Regions from separate parts of the Homo sapiens genome. Here region 1 is linked to region 2. The links come from fine-mapping of genetic effects on gene expression. Tissue or cell type: whole blood. Region 2 holds a variant in brackets; the other region holds the start of a gene. All regions are shown on one strand. Distances are between the middles of the regions.

What was found. PIP is the estimated chance that this variant, and not a neighbour inherited with it, causes the effect.
Region 1: RBP7 starts here. The variant in region 2 is fine-mapped to the expression of RBP7 in whole blood (TOPMed, PIP above 0.99).

The regions. Positions count from the first base shown.
Region 1 is chr1:9,994,706-10,001,081 of GRCh38, reverse strand. RBP7 (retinol binding protein 7) reads right to left here and starts at 3,854. Exons shown (of 4, transcript NM_052960.3): 1 at 3,751-3,854. The coding sequence starts at 3,823. LOC124903840 (basic salivary proline-rich protein 2-like) reads left to right here and starts at 2,993. Exons shown (of 2, transcript XM_047436754.1): 1 at 2,993-3,400; 2 at 4,230-4,363. The coding sequence starts at 3,052. The coding sequence ends at 4,363. It also overlaps a transcript of NMNAT1 not described here. RefSeq lists a silencer at 1,905-2,105.
Region 2 is chr1:10,223,701-10,231,783 of GRCh38, reverse strand. All of the region lies in intron 1 of KIF1B (kinesin family member 1B), which reads right to left. Among named protein-coding and RNA genes, the nearest start is that of KIF1B, 17 kb to the right of the region's middle. The variant G/T (reference allele first, on the strand shown) is at 4,022.

The sequences.
Region 1 (6,376 bases), 230 kb after region 2:
CTGCCAACAGGCATTTACCTCACTTCTACTACTAAAAAAGAGGCAATCAGCCAGGCACGGTAGCTCACGCCTGTAATCCCAGCACTTTGGGAGGCCAAGGCGGGTGGATCACGAGGTCAGGAGTTCAAGACCAGCCTGGCCAAGATGGTAAAACTCCGTCTCTATTAAAAATACAAAAATTAGCCAGGAGAGGTGGTGGGCACCTGTAATACCAGCTACTCAGGAGGCTGAAGCAGGAGAATTGCTTGAACTCAGGAGGCAGAGGTTGCAGTGAGCCGAGATCGCACCACTGCACTCTAGCCTGGGCAACAGAGAGAGACTCCATCTCAACAACAACAACAAAAAAAGAGGCGATCATTTATTATTTTCCTAGACCCTACAGTTTAAAGATCTAAGTACTATATCTGTGATTTTTTATGGAATGTATTTTCCTTACATGTACATGAACAAGCATATAAATTTAAAGTTAATTATATATTCAAGTAAATCAGTAAAATTCAAGATTGCTAGCTGAATTTTTTTTTTTGTCTTATTGACTTATTTTTTTTGAGACCAAGTCTCATGCTGTTGCCCAGGCTAGAGTGCAGTGTCGTGATCTGGGCTCACTGCAACCTCCACCTCTCAGGTTCAAGCGATTCTCGTGCCTCAGCCTCCCAATTAGCTGGGACTACAGGCATGAGCCACCATGCCTAGCTAATTTTTGTACTTTTAGTAGAGATGGGGTATTTCACCATGTTGGCCAGGCTGGTCTCAAACTCCTGACTTCAGGTGATCCACCCACCTCGGCCTCCCAAAGTGCTGGGATTATAGGCGTGAGCCACCTGCCCAGTCTGCTAGCTTAATTATTTTTTTTCAAGATGGAGTCTTGCTTTGTCTCCCTGGCTAGAGTGCAATGGCGCAATCTCGGCTCACTGCAACCTCCACCTTCTGGGTTCAAGCAATTCTCCTGCTTCAGCCTCACAAGTAGCGGGATTACAGGTGCATGCCATCATGCCCAGCTAATTTTTTGTATTTTTAGTAGAGGTGGGGCTTCACCATGTTGGCCAGGCTGGTCTTGAACTCCTGACCTCATGATCCACCTGCCTCAGCATCCCAAAGTGCTGGGATTACAGGTGTGAGCCACTGCACCCAGACCAACTTAATTCTTAAGATAAAATGTATTATAGTATTATGGCTGGGCACAGTGGCTCACACCGAGATCGCGCCACTGCACTCCAGCCTAGGCAATAGAGCCAGACTCCATCTAAAAAAAAAAAAAAAAAAAAAAGAGTATTACAGTATTATGTAAACAACCACTCTAGTGCTATAAGTGTGACCTAAGTACTTAGCACTTTAACAAATTGATGTAAGTACTTAGTACTTTAACAAATTAGATCTGAAGTTGAAACACAGTTGCTGGTTTTCAGAAAACCGTTCTGGATTTAAGGGTTTCTGGATAGGCGACCTCAGAACATGGCACCTTATGTCCATTTTCACGCTGCTGATAAAGACATATCCAAGAGTGGGTAACTTATTATTATTATTATTTTAGACAGAGTTTCACTCTTGTTGCCCAGGCTGGAGTGCAATGGCACCATCTCAGCTCACTGCAACCTCTGCCTCCTAGGTTCAAGTGATTCTCCTGCCTCAGCCTCCCAAAGTAGCTGGGATTACAGGCGCCCGCCACCATGCCCAGCTAATTTCTTTTTGGTATTTTTAGTTGAGACGGGGTTTCACCATGTTGGCCAGGCTGGTCTTGAACTCCTGACCTCAGTTGATCCACCCGCCTCAGCCTCCCAAAGTGCTGGGATTACAGGCGTGAGCCACCGAGCCTGGCAAGAGTGGGTAACTTATAAAGAAAAAGAGGTTTAACTGCCGCAGTTCCACGTGGCTGGGGAAGCCTCAAAATCATGGCAGAAGGCAAAAGGCACGTCTTACATGGTGGCAGGCAAGAGAGAATGAGAGCCAAATGAAAGGGGAAACCCCTTGTAAAACCATCAAATCTCATGAGACATTCACTACCACCAGAACAGTGTGGGGAAAACTACCCCATGATTCAATTACCTCTCCTCAGGTCCCTCCCACAACACATGAGAATTATGGGAACTACAACTCCCATGAGATTTGGGTGGGGACACAGCCAAACCATATCACTTGGCATTTGAGGAAATAACAGTAGCAGGAAGGTCCCCCTCAGACCTTCTTTTGCCCCTCTTCCCTGAAGCAGGCCATAAAAGAATTCTCTGCTCTTCCTCTGAAGAAGATCATAAGACTCTCAAGTGAGAGGTGCTTTTCCCATACCCAGAGGAACACTCTTATCTCTTGGGATATGAAAGAGCAAAATAAATGCCCCTTTATCAACTAAGATGGGCCCTAAGGTTAAGAAAACAAAAATTGGCCGGTGCGGTGCCTCACGCCTGTAATCCCAGCACTTTGGGAGGCCAAGGTGGGCAGATCACGAGGGCAGATGTTCGAGACCAGCCTGGCCAACATGGTGAAACCCCGTTTCTACTAAAAAATACAAAAATTAGCTGGGCGTGGTGGCGGGCGCCTATAGTCCCAGCTACTCGGAGAGGCTGAGGCAGGAAAATGGCGTGAACCCGGTAGGCGGAGCTTGCAGTGAGCCGAGATCGTACTACTGCACTCCAGCCTGGGCAACAGAGCGAGACTCCGTCTCAAAAAAAAAAAAAAAAAAGAAAGAAAGAAAGAAAGAAAAAAAGAAAACAAAAATTGCCCACGGGTCAAGGGTTCAGGGATTGGCCGGCACGGCAACTTCCCAGATTCCTAAAGCTACAAGAAAAACTACACTCGTGGCAGGGCGCGTGGCTCACACCTGTAATCCCAGCACTTTGGGAGGCCAAGGCGGGTGGATCACCTGAGGTCAGGAGTTGGACACCAGCCTGACCAATATAGTGAAACCCCTTCTCTACTAAAAGTACAAAATTAGCCGGACGTGGTGGCTGGCGCACGCGTGTAATCCCAGCTACTTGGAAGGCTGTGGCAGGAGAATCGCTTGAACCGAGGAGGCGGAGGTTGCAGTGAGTTGAGAGTCCGCGCACCGTTGGCACCGCGATGAGGGCGGGAAGCACAGCGCGGGGCCCCCGGGAGCAAGAACGCCGCGGGCACCCAGCCCTCGTGGGAGGCGGCGGTCGGGGCACGCCCCGGGCCGAACCAGGCTCTGCACTCCCGCGGGTGCCCGGACCTGAAGGGTCGTCCGCTGGCTCCAGGATTCTGCATCCCCGACCCGCTCCGGGTGCGCCGAGGCTGCTGGGACTTCGCTGCGGGAGCGCGCCCGGGGCCCCGGGGCCTGCACGGAAGGCGGCTGCGGGGAGGGTGGCCGGGCAGAGGCTTCGGTCCCGGGCGCCCCCTCCCCGGCCGGACCCCCCTCCCCGGCCGGACCCCGAGTCTGCAGTCTCCGCAGGTGTGCCGCGTGCGGGTAGAGACGGACGTGGGGCTGGACGCGGGCACTCAGGGACGGACGGGTGGGGGACCGACGGCCGGGGGAACAGAGGGCGTGGAGAGACGGCCGTGGGGACAGGGGGGCGGGTGGGCGCGGGAAAGGACGGACTGGGGGACTGAAGGACTGGGGTCCCGCGCCCGATGGACGGAGGCGCCAAGGACCAGCGGACTCGGGGGCGACTGGGCGACGGTGGGCGCAGCAGGGCGGAGGCACGGACAGAGGACGTACCTACAGGCCCGGCCCGGCCGCCTTCGCCTGATCCCGAGACCCACGGCGAGCCTCGCGCCGCCGCCGCCTCCCCTCCGCCTTACCTAGGGCCAGCATGTAGCCCTCGAAGTTGTCGCTGCTGAGCAGGGTCCAAGTACCGCTGAGGTCGGCGGGCATGGTCGGGGATCGCGGGACAAACCCGGCGGGCGGCCGGAGGCTCGGGCCGGGACCTATAAACCAGGCGGGGCGGGGCAGGGGGGTGGGGCCGCGCGCGGGAGGAGCAGGTGGGGCCGCGTGGGTCCCACTCACCCCTAGAAGCCGCTGCGCTCCCGGCCGCCTCAGCCCGGTGCTCCTGGCTCTGCCCACCGCGCGGCAGCTTCCCCCTTTCCTTGGGGCTTCCTCTCCTACTGCTTTCTCATGTCCCAGACTGTTTCGGGCCACATTTTCTTCCCTGCTTATATGTTAATGACCCAGGGATGATCTTCAAACTCATGGCATTGAATATTGTCAGCTTCAATAACAATATACCTCTCAACGTAACTCTCATGGTCTCAATAAATAGGAGTTTATTTTTCTTAACAAGGAGTCCTGAGAGAAGTGATTGCTGGTGATGATTCGCACCTAGGAATCACAGTGATTCGCACCTCGGTAACGCCGCAGCTTCGTCTCTGTGACTCTGGTGGCCTTTTATTCCTGCTTGTTACCTCCTGGTCATGAGCTGGCAGCTGGGTTCCCAGCCAGGACATCCACATTCAAGGTAGGGAAGAGGGAAAGCACCAAAGGTCAGTATCCCTGCAGCACAAACCTCCCCATCTCCTATAAGTCTGGATAGTTGGAAAAAAGAAAAGAAATTACCCAGCAGGTTTCTGTGTACATTTCATTAGCCAAAACTGTATCAATGCCACTTCTAACTGCAAGGGGGCCTGGGGATTCTAGTCTGCAGCATTTAGCCTCAGAGCAGAGAAAAGCAAAGGAGAAGGGGTGGGAATATGGGCTAACCTACAACATTAGCCACAAACACCGCCTAGATATGCTGGCTCCAAGACTGACTTATTGATTTTATTTTTATTTTTTTTCTTTTGAGACAGAGTCTCACTCTTTCTTTTTTCTTTTTTTTTTTTTTTTTGAGACGGAGTCTCGCTCTGTGCCCAGGCTGGAGTGCAGTGGAGAGATCTCGGCTCACTGCAAGCTCCGCCTCCGGGGTTCACGCCATTCTCCTGCCTCAGCCTCCCGAGTAGCTGGGACTACAGGCGCCCGCCAACACGCCCGGCTAACTTTTTATATTTTTATTAGAGACGGGGTTTCACCGTGTTAGCCAGGATGGTCTCGATCTCATGACCTTGTGATCCGCCCGCCTTGGCCTCCCAAAGTGCTGGGATTACAGGCCTGAGCCACTGCGCCCGGCAGAGAGGGAGTCTCACTCTATCGCCCCGGGCTGGAGGGCAGTGGTTCCATCTCGGCTCACTGCAACCTCCGCCTCCCAGGTTCAAGTGATTCTCCTGCCTCAGCCTCCCGAGTAGCTGGGATCACAGGTGCCCATCACCATGCCCAACTAATTTTTTGTATTTTTAGTGGAGATGGGGGTTTCATCATGTTGGCTAGGCTGGTCTTGAGCTCCTGACCTCGTGATTCGCCTGCCTCAGCCTCCCAAAGTGCTGGGATTATAGGTGTGAGCCACCGCACCCGCGGTATTTATTTTTTCATTTATTCTTTTTATTTTATTTTATTCTATTTTATTTTTTGAGACAGACTCTCACTCTGTCGCCTAGGCTGGAGTGCAATGGTGCAATCTTGGCTCACTGCAACCTCCGCCTCTTGGGTTCAAGCAACTCTCCTGCCTCAGCCTCCTGAGTAGCTGGGATTACAGGTACCTGCCACCATGCCTGGCTAATTTTTATATATTTTAGAAGAGGTGGAGTTTCACCATGTTGGCCAGGTAGGTCTCGAACTCCCAACCTTAAAAGATCCACCCACCTAAGCTTCCCAAAGTGCTGGAATTACAGGCATGAGCCACCACACCCAGACTGACTATTTTTTGAGATAGAGTCTTGCTCTGTTGCCTAGGCTGGAGTGCAGTGGTATGATCATGGTTCACTGTAGCCTCAACCTCCTGAGTTCAAGTGATCTTCCTGCCTCAGCCTTCTAAGTAGCTACAACTACAGGCATGTGCCACCATGCCTGACTAATTTTTTTAATTTTTTATAGAGATGGAGTATCCCTGTGTTGCCGGCGGTTGGTCTCAAACTCCTAGGCTCAAGCAACCCTCCAACCTTGGCCTCCCAAAGTGCTGGGATTACAGGTGTAAGCCACTGTGTCCAGCTCAAGATTTATATGTCAATTTATGACCTCTCCCATGAGTTCCAGACTCAAATATAATAAAAGCTAGCAGTCCGTGCATGGTAGCTCACACCTGTAATCCCAGCACTTTGGGAGACCGAGGTGGGTGGATCACCTGAGGTCAGGAGTTTGAGACCAGCCTGGTCAACATGGTGAAACCCCATCTCTACTAAAAATACAAAAAATTGGACAGGCGCAGTGGCTCAAGCCTGTAATCCCAGCACTTTGGGAGGCTGAGGCGGGCAGATCACGAGGTCAGGAGATCAAGACCTTCCTGGCTAACATGGTGAAACCCTGTCTCTACTAAAAATACAAAAAAATTAGCCGGGCGTGGTGGCGGGCACCTGTAGTCCCAGCTACTCGGGAGGCTGAGGCAGGAGAATGCGTGAACCC
Region 2 (8,083 bases):
TGAAAAACACAAAATGTTTATTGGCTAAAGAAGTTCCTTAAACAGATAACTTTCCACGTGCAAACCACTTACTACTTCTCTTTAAAGAAGTGCATTGGGCCAGGCATGGTGGCTCATGCCTGTAATCCCAGCACTTTGGGAAGTCAAGTTGGGCGGATCACTTGAGGTCAGGAGTTCGAGACCAGCCTGGCCAACATGGTAAAACCCCATCTTTACTAAAAATACAAAAATTAGCCAGGCATGGTGGTATGCGCCTGTGATCCCCGCTACTAGGGAGGCTGAGGCAGGAGAATTGCTTGAACCCAGGAGGTGGAGGCTGCAATGAACCTGAGATCCCACCACTGCCCTCCAGCCTGGGCAACAAAGCAAGACACCATCTCACAAAAAAAAAAAAAAAAAAAAAAAGGGCACTGAACTCTCCATACATTAATTATAGTTTGAAACATTTGGTTACATGATGTATATATATTGTGTAATTAAATAGCAAAGGACAAAGACACTTTCTAGTCAATTCGTTTAACTATACAGTGATTTCCTTTAACTTCTGGGTTTTCTTTTGTTTTGTGTTTTTTTAAGACGGAGTTTTGCTCTTGTCGCCCAGGCTGGAGTGCAATGGCACGACCTCGGCTCACTGCAACCTCTGCCTCCCGGATTCAACAATTCTCCTGCCTCAGCCTCCTGAGTACCTGGGATTACTGGCGTACGCCACCACGCCCAGCTAATTTTTGTATTTTTAGTAGAGACGGGGTTTCACCATGTCAACCAGGCTGGTCTCGAACTCCTCACCTCAGATTCACCTGCCTCGGTCTCCCAAAGTGCTGGGATTATAAGCGTGAGTCACTGCGCCTGGCCAATTTCCTTTAACTTCAAAGATCCCTCAGATATGCCACTGACTCATGGCAGAGTCAAATCATTACATTTCACTACTGAATGAAGTAATAGGAAAAATGTGAACATTTTTTAGAGGAATAGTTTCCCTCCCAACAGAACAAAGCCAACACTACTGTGTGAAAAGAATCCAAGTAAGTAACTTCTGTAAGAAACAACCGGCCGCGTGCGGTGGCTCACGCCTGTAATCCCAGCACTTTGGGAGGCCGAGATGGGTGGATCACTTGAGGTCAGGAGATCAAGACCAGCCTAGCCAACACGGTGAAACCCCGTCTCTATTAAAAATACAAAAATTAACCAGGTGTGGTGGCACACACCTGTAATCCCAGCTATTCAGGAGGCTGAGGCAGGAGAATCACTTGAACCCAGGAGGTGGAGGTTGCAGTGAGCTGAGATCGCACCACTGCACTCCAGCCTGGGTCACAGAGTGAGACTCCGTCTCAAAAAAAAAAAGAAAGAAAAAAAAAACAACCAATTTTTCTAGTTAGGAAAAACTCTACACTCTATCCAATATAAAATCTTTTTCAAGAATAACCAAACAAAGGAAAAATCTAAAAAAGAAAAGTAATTACGAATCCAATTATCAGGAACCACAACAGAACTTAAATCTGACCAATATTTTTTCCAGATAATTAGGAATGCTAACCTCCAACTACACAACACCATAACCGATGTGTTCCCGAGAACAGGATAAATAAATAACATAAAAACCAAAGTCACTCTCTACCTCAATGCCCTACCCGTCCAGGCTACTGTACAGTGGCACAATCATAGCTCACTGTAACCTTGAACTCCTGGGCTCAAGTGATCCTCCCACCTCAGCCTCCAAAACAGCTGCGACTACAGGCACACACCAACACACCCAACTAATATTTTATTTTATTTGTAGAGACAAAGTCTTGTTATGTTGCCCAGTCTGTTCTCAAACTCCTGACTCAGCCTCCCAAAGTGCTGGGATTATAGGTGTGAGCCACCACGTCTGGCCCCTAATTTTCTTTTCTTTTTTTTTTTTTTTTTTTTTTTTTTTTGAGACGGAGTCTCACTCCATCACCCAGGAGGCTGGATGGAGTGCAGTGGCGCGATCTCGGCTCACTGCAAACTCCGCCTCCCAGGTTCACGCCATTCTCCTGCCTCAGCCTCCTGAGTAGCTGGGGCTACAGGCGCCTGCCACCACGCCTGGCTAATTTTTTGTATTTTTTTTTTAGTAGAGATGGGGTTTCACCATGTTAGCCAGGATGGTCTCGATCTCCTGACCTCGTGATCCACCCGCCTCAGCCTCCCAAAGTGCTGGGATTACAGGCATGAGCCACCGCACCCGGCTGTCTGGCCCCTAATTTTCTTAATAGCATCATCGCTATTTGAAATTCTTGTTTTCTGGAGCATGTCTATTGTCCATCTCTCACACTGTCTGTCTCTCACTCTACCACCAGAATGCTCAGAGATCTCCTGTCTCGTTTGCTAGCACTTACAACAGTACCTGACATAAGAGCTCAGTAAATGTTGATGAAATGAATGACATACATTTCCCAGTTGTGAGAATTATCTGTTTAAGTCCTTTGCCTAGTTTACTGATTTTTTTGTTTTTTAAATGTTTACATATTTTTATATTAATCTTTTTCTATTTGCTACAATGTTTTTTCTAGTCTGTTTGCCATTTTATTTTAAACTGATGGTTCTTTATTTAAATATCAAATATTTTTATGATCACATGTATCAAATGAAAACTTAGCATTTATTAACCTTCCCAATCAATGGAGCATGACTTATATTCACTAGTTGAGTACTATGCCAAGAGAATGAATGACACATTCAGAAAAAGCAAGACATAAAACACATTGCAACCTCCCCGAGTTCCCTCTGAAATACAGCCATCATCTTAACTCTCCTCATGTCCAAAAAACCATTATCTTCTCCCCTAAACTAGCAATCTCTGCCAATCTTCCCTATCAACAGTATTCTCCCAGGCCCCGATACCATAAATGTTGGAGTCATCTTTGTCACTACTCTTTGAAACCTTGTATTATTACCAACATTATTCACAAAATACCATATGGAAACTTCTAAGATATAAAGTTGCTTTATTCTATCCCTCCCTTCCTCTCATTCCCACTGATATTACCTCAATCCATGTCCTTACTACCACATACCTAGGATACTTGCAATAGCTGGACTGTTCTTTGGGCTTTTAGTCTTTGATCCAATAGTCCTTAAACAGAGTTGTATGAAACAGAATGACACGGGGGCCTTTTGAAAAACAAAGGAGTCTAGACTCTCCCAGTCTAGATAGGCCCCAGATATGGATTTGTTGATTTGGGTTAATTTTCAAAGATTATGTTACAAATACCCAGCTAAAAAGCACTGCTTTAAACCACTGCTTAACCCTGTTGCAAGATCAACCCCTCTAAAGCATGACTTTCAACGTCACTTCCAATAGCAAGAACGTTCTCTTGTTCCTAACATGTAAAAAATACTGCAAATTGATTTTTAAAAGTCAAATATATAAATTCATAAGCTTACGATACTTTTTTTTTTAAAAACTTCATTAATAGATCAATGGTTACAGAGGGAAGAAAATGCATTATCCTGAAAACAGCAAATAAAACAGAATTAAGCATACATCTAGTCTGTATAGCCTGTATAAAATATTCCAGGATAACCAAATAGTCAATGAAAGTAAGTTCTTTTTTTTCTCTTTTCTTTTTTTTTGAGATGGAGTCTCACTCTGTCACCCAGGTCAGGCTGGAGTGCAGTGGCATGATCTTGGCTCACTGCAACCTCCTTTTTCGGGATTCAAGCAATTCTCCTGCCTCAGCCTCCCGAGTAGCTGGGATTACAGAAGCCCACCAGCACGCCCGGGTAATTTTTGTATTATTAGTAGAGACAGGGTTTCACCATGTAGGCCAGGCTGGTCTCAAACTCCTGACCTCATATGATCCGCCCACCTCAGTCTCCCAAAGTGCTAGGATTACAGGTGTGAGCCACAGCACCCGGCTGAGGGTAAGTTCTTTACAGAAAAATTCTAGCTAATAAATGCAGAAGAAATGAAAGAATTATAGAATGTTACCTTTTCCCAACTCTTTTTTTTTTGAGATGAAGTTTCGCTCTTGTCACCCAGGCTGAAGTGCAGTGGCAC[G/T]ATCTTGGCTCACTGCAGCCTCAACCTCATGGGTTCAAGCGATTCTCCTACCTCAGCCTACCGAGTAGCTGGGATTACAGGTGCCCAACACACCACCAGGTTAATTTTTGTGGTTTTAGTAGAGATGGGGTTTCAACATGTTGGCCAGGCTGGTCTCGAACAAAGGAAATACACAGCTTATTAAGTATTCTTGCCCCACTCCCCTTAAAATGAAAACTGTTTAAAAAACCAAACCCTGAATAAAATCAAGCTTTAGATCTGACTACCAGTTTAGAAGACATATAGGGAGGAAAGAAGCAACTTAGATGACACATCAAAGATATAAACAGGCAAATTCAGTATATGAAACAATCTACAGAATAAATCAACCAAGTTTCTTCAAACAAATAGCATAATTGGGGAGACAGGGTTTTATAACCCTGGGCTTGTGGGCCAGGCACGGTGGCTCACGCCTGTCATCCTGGCACTTTGGGAGGCTGAGATGGGTAGATCACGAGGTCAAGAAATCAAGACCATCCTGGTCAACATGGTGAAACCCCATCTCTACTAAAGCACAAAAATTAGCTGGGCATGGTGACGTGCACCTGTAATCCCAGCTACTTGGGAGGCTGAGGCAGAAGAATTGTTTGAACCCGGGAGGCAGAGGTTGCAGTGAGCTGAGATCGCACCACTGCACTCCAGCCTGGTAAGAGAGCGAGACTTCATCTCAAAAAAAAAAAAAAAAAAAAAAGAGAGACTTGCGTTATTTATCAACCAAATACAATGTATTTTTTTGTTTGTTTGTTTGTTTTTGAGACAGGGTCTCCCTCTGGTTGCCCAGGCTGGGGAGTGCAGTGGCATGATCTCAGCTCACTGCAGCCTTGACCTCCTGGGCTCAGGTGATTCTCCCACCTCAGCTTCCCAAGTAGCTGGGATTACAGGCACACGCCACCACGCCTGGCTAGCTTTTTGTATTTTTAGTAGGGACGGGGTTTCGCTATGTTGCCCAGGCTGGTCTCGAACTCCTGGACTCATGTAATCTTCCAGCCTCAGCCTTCGAGTGCTGGGATTACAGGTGTGAACCACCACACTCGGCCTAAAAATACATTTTTTAGATAATCAGGTAGTCTGAAGATAGGCTGGGTATTAGATGATATTAAGGAATTTGTTAGGGGATGACAGAACAAGATTGCCAAAATGTTGATAGTTGTTGAATACTGTTGATATTTAAATTTTAAAAAACAAAACAAAACTTTTTTCTTTTGTGTTCTACCTAGGACCTACCAAAGTGTTGAATGTTACAAACAAGACAAGAAAGGCTGAAACCTCCTTGGTGGGCTTTAGATATAAAGTACTATGTATTTGTAACTATGAACCAAAACATTAACATCTCTAATACCTAATGTCCCCATACATACACACATACATTTTTCTATAGACTACTCGACTCCTCTACCTAGCTATCCTTCCAGCATTTCATTCAATCTCACACAACTAAAGCCGAAACCTCTATCCCCAAAACAATACCAGCTCTTTGGCCTCCTTTCTATTTCTTTTTAATGTTCTCACCATTCTGCTGTTCTCACACAGGCTAAAAGCTTGCTTTGTCTATCCATCTAATCAGCTTATATCTATAAAATCTCTCCATTTCTACCACCACCATTACCTTTTAGGCTTTCAATACTTCTCACCCAAGGCCTTCTTAACCAGCTTTCTCTCTCTTCCTCCTACCCTATCCATACTACACAATATCCCCATTTTCTTTTTTAAAAATATTTTTTATTATCTTTACCACAGTTATCCAATTAGGTGAATTATCCCTTTTCATCTGCCCTATCTGTACCACATAATATTGCCAAGATTCACCTTCCTGAAGTACAGATCTATTTCTATCACTGTCCACTTCAAAATCCTCCAAGTTCCCCTCCTGTCTACGAAGCAATGACTGAACTCCCCACAATGGCATTCAAAGTGTTCTGCAACATAAACCACCTATTTTTACAAGCCCACATGAACACTGCCTTCCAGCCACATTCTTTTACAACCACCCACCAGAGGACTTCCAGAATGCATCCCAAGTTTTTCTGCCCCTGTGTTTTTGCTCCAACTTTCCCTTTCCCCACTGTGTCCTTTGTCTTGTTCTTTTTAAATTCCAATTTATTCTTCCAGGACCTTCTCACTTGCTCCTGTCTAAAGTCTTGATGGATTCTCTCCACCCCAAAACCAAATACAATTGCTCCTCTATTTAACACTTTTCAAATCATTGACCTTACCCAAGGCAGAATAAATTACTTTTTTTATTGTTTTGTTGTTTTTTTCAGACAAGGTCTTGCTCTGTCAAGGGAATCATGGCTCACTGCAGCCTCAACCTCCCAGGCTCAAGTGACTCTCTTGTCTCAGTTTCCCGAGCAGCTGGAGCTACAGGGGTGCACCACCATGCCCGGCTAATTTTTTGTTTGTTTGTTTAAGACAAGGCCTCACTCTGTCCACCCAGACTGGAGTGCAGTGGAACCATCTCAGCTCACTGCAGCCTCAGCCTCAAGTAGCTGGGACTACAGGCATGTCCCACCACACCCAGCCTTAGTCAAGTTTCTAATCCTCTACAAGAGGGGTCCTCAACCCCTAGGCCACAGAGTGGTACAGGTCTGTGGCCTGTTAAAAACCAGGCCACACAGCAGGAGGTGAGCGGTGGGCAAGTGAGCATTATTGCCTGAGCTCCTCCTCCTGTGAGATCAGCGATGGCATCAGAGTTTCATAGAAGTGCAAACATTACTGTGAACTGTGCATGCAAGGGATCTAGGTTGCACACTCCTTATGAGAATCTAATGCCTGATGATCTGAGGTGGAACAGTTTCATCCTGAGACCATCACCCCAACCCTGTCTGTGGAAAAACCGTCTTCCACAAAACCAGTCCCTGGGGCTAAAAAGAATGGGGACAGCTGCCCTACAACACAGGATGGGTCTTGAATACAATAGTTATTTTTTTTGGTTGAATTCCTATTTAACTGGATGTCAACAAACTAACATTTAAACAGCATTAAATAAAAAACATAAATTGGGGCCAGGCATGGTTCCTCACGCCTATAATCCCAACACTTTGGGAGGCTAAAGTGAAAGAATTGCTTGAGGCCAGAAGTTCAAGACCAGCCTGGGCAACATATTCAGACACTCTCTACCAAAAAACATTTTTGTTTAAATTAGCTGGGTGTGGTGGCATGCATCGGTAATCCCAGCTACTTGAGAGGCTGAGGTGGGTAGATCACTTGAGCCCAGGAGTTGGAGGCTGCAATTAGCCATGATTCCATCACTGCACTCCAGTTTGGACAACAGAGCCAACAACATCTCAAAAAAACACACACACAAAACAGGCTGGGCACGGCAGCTCACGCTTGTAATCCCAGCACTTTGGGAGGCTGAGGCGGGCGGATCACAAGGTCAGGAAATCGAGACCATCCTGGCTAACATGGTGAAACCCCATCTCTACTAAAAATACAAAAAATTAGCCAGGCGTGGTGACACGCACCTGTAAACCCAGCTACTCGGGAGGCTGAGGCAGGAGAACCGCTTAAACCCGGGAGGCGGAGGTTGCAGTGAGCTGGGATATCGCACTACTGCACTCCAGCCTGGGCAACAGAGCGAGACTCCATCTCAAACAAACAAACAAAAACCACGGTCAGGGCTGTACACTCTGACTCACACCTGCTGTAATTCTGGCACTTTCAGAGGCCAAGGCAGGCAGATGGCTTGAGCTCAGGAGTTCAAGACCAGCCTAGGCAACATGTGAAACCCTATTTCTGCAAAAAAACACAAAAATTAGCCGGGCATTGTTGTGTGCTAATAACATCTATCCTTTTTAGAAGTTTATATTTAATTACTTTCTCAAAACAACCTAAACCTAAATATTTTTTCTGATTTTACTGTCTCATGGTAAAAACTTCAGGCCGGGCACAGTGGCTCACGCCTGTAATCCCAGCACTTTGGGAGGCCGAGGCGGGCGGATCATGAGGTCAAGACATCAAGACCATCCTGGCCAACGTGGTGAAATCCCGTTTCTACTAGAAATACAAAAATTAGCTGGTGTG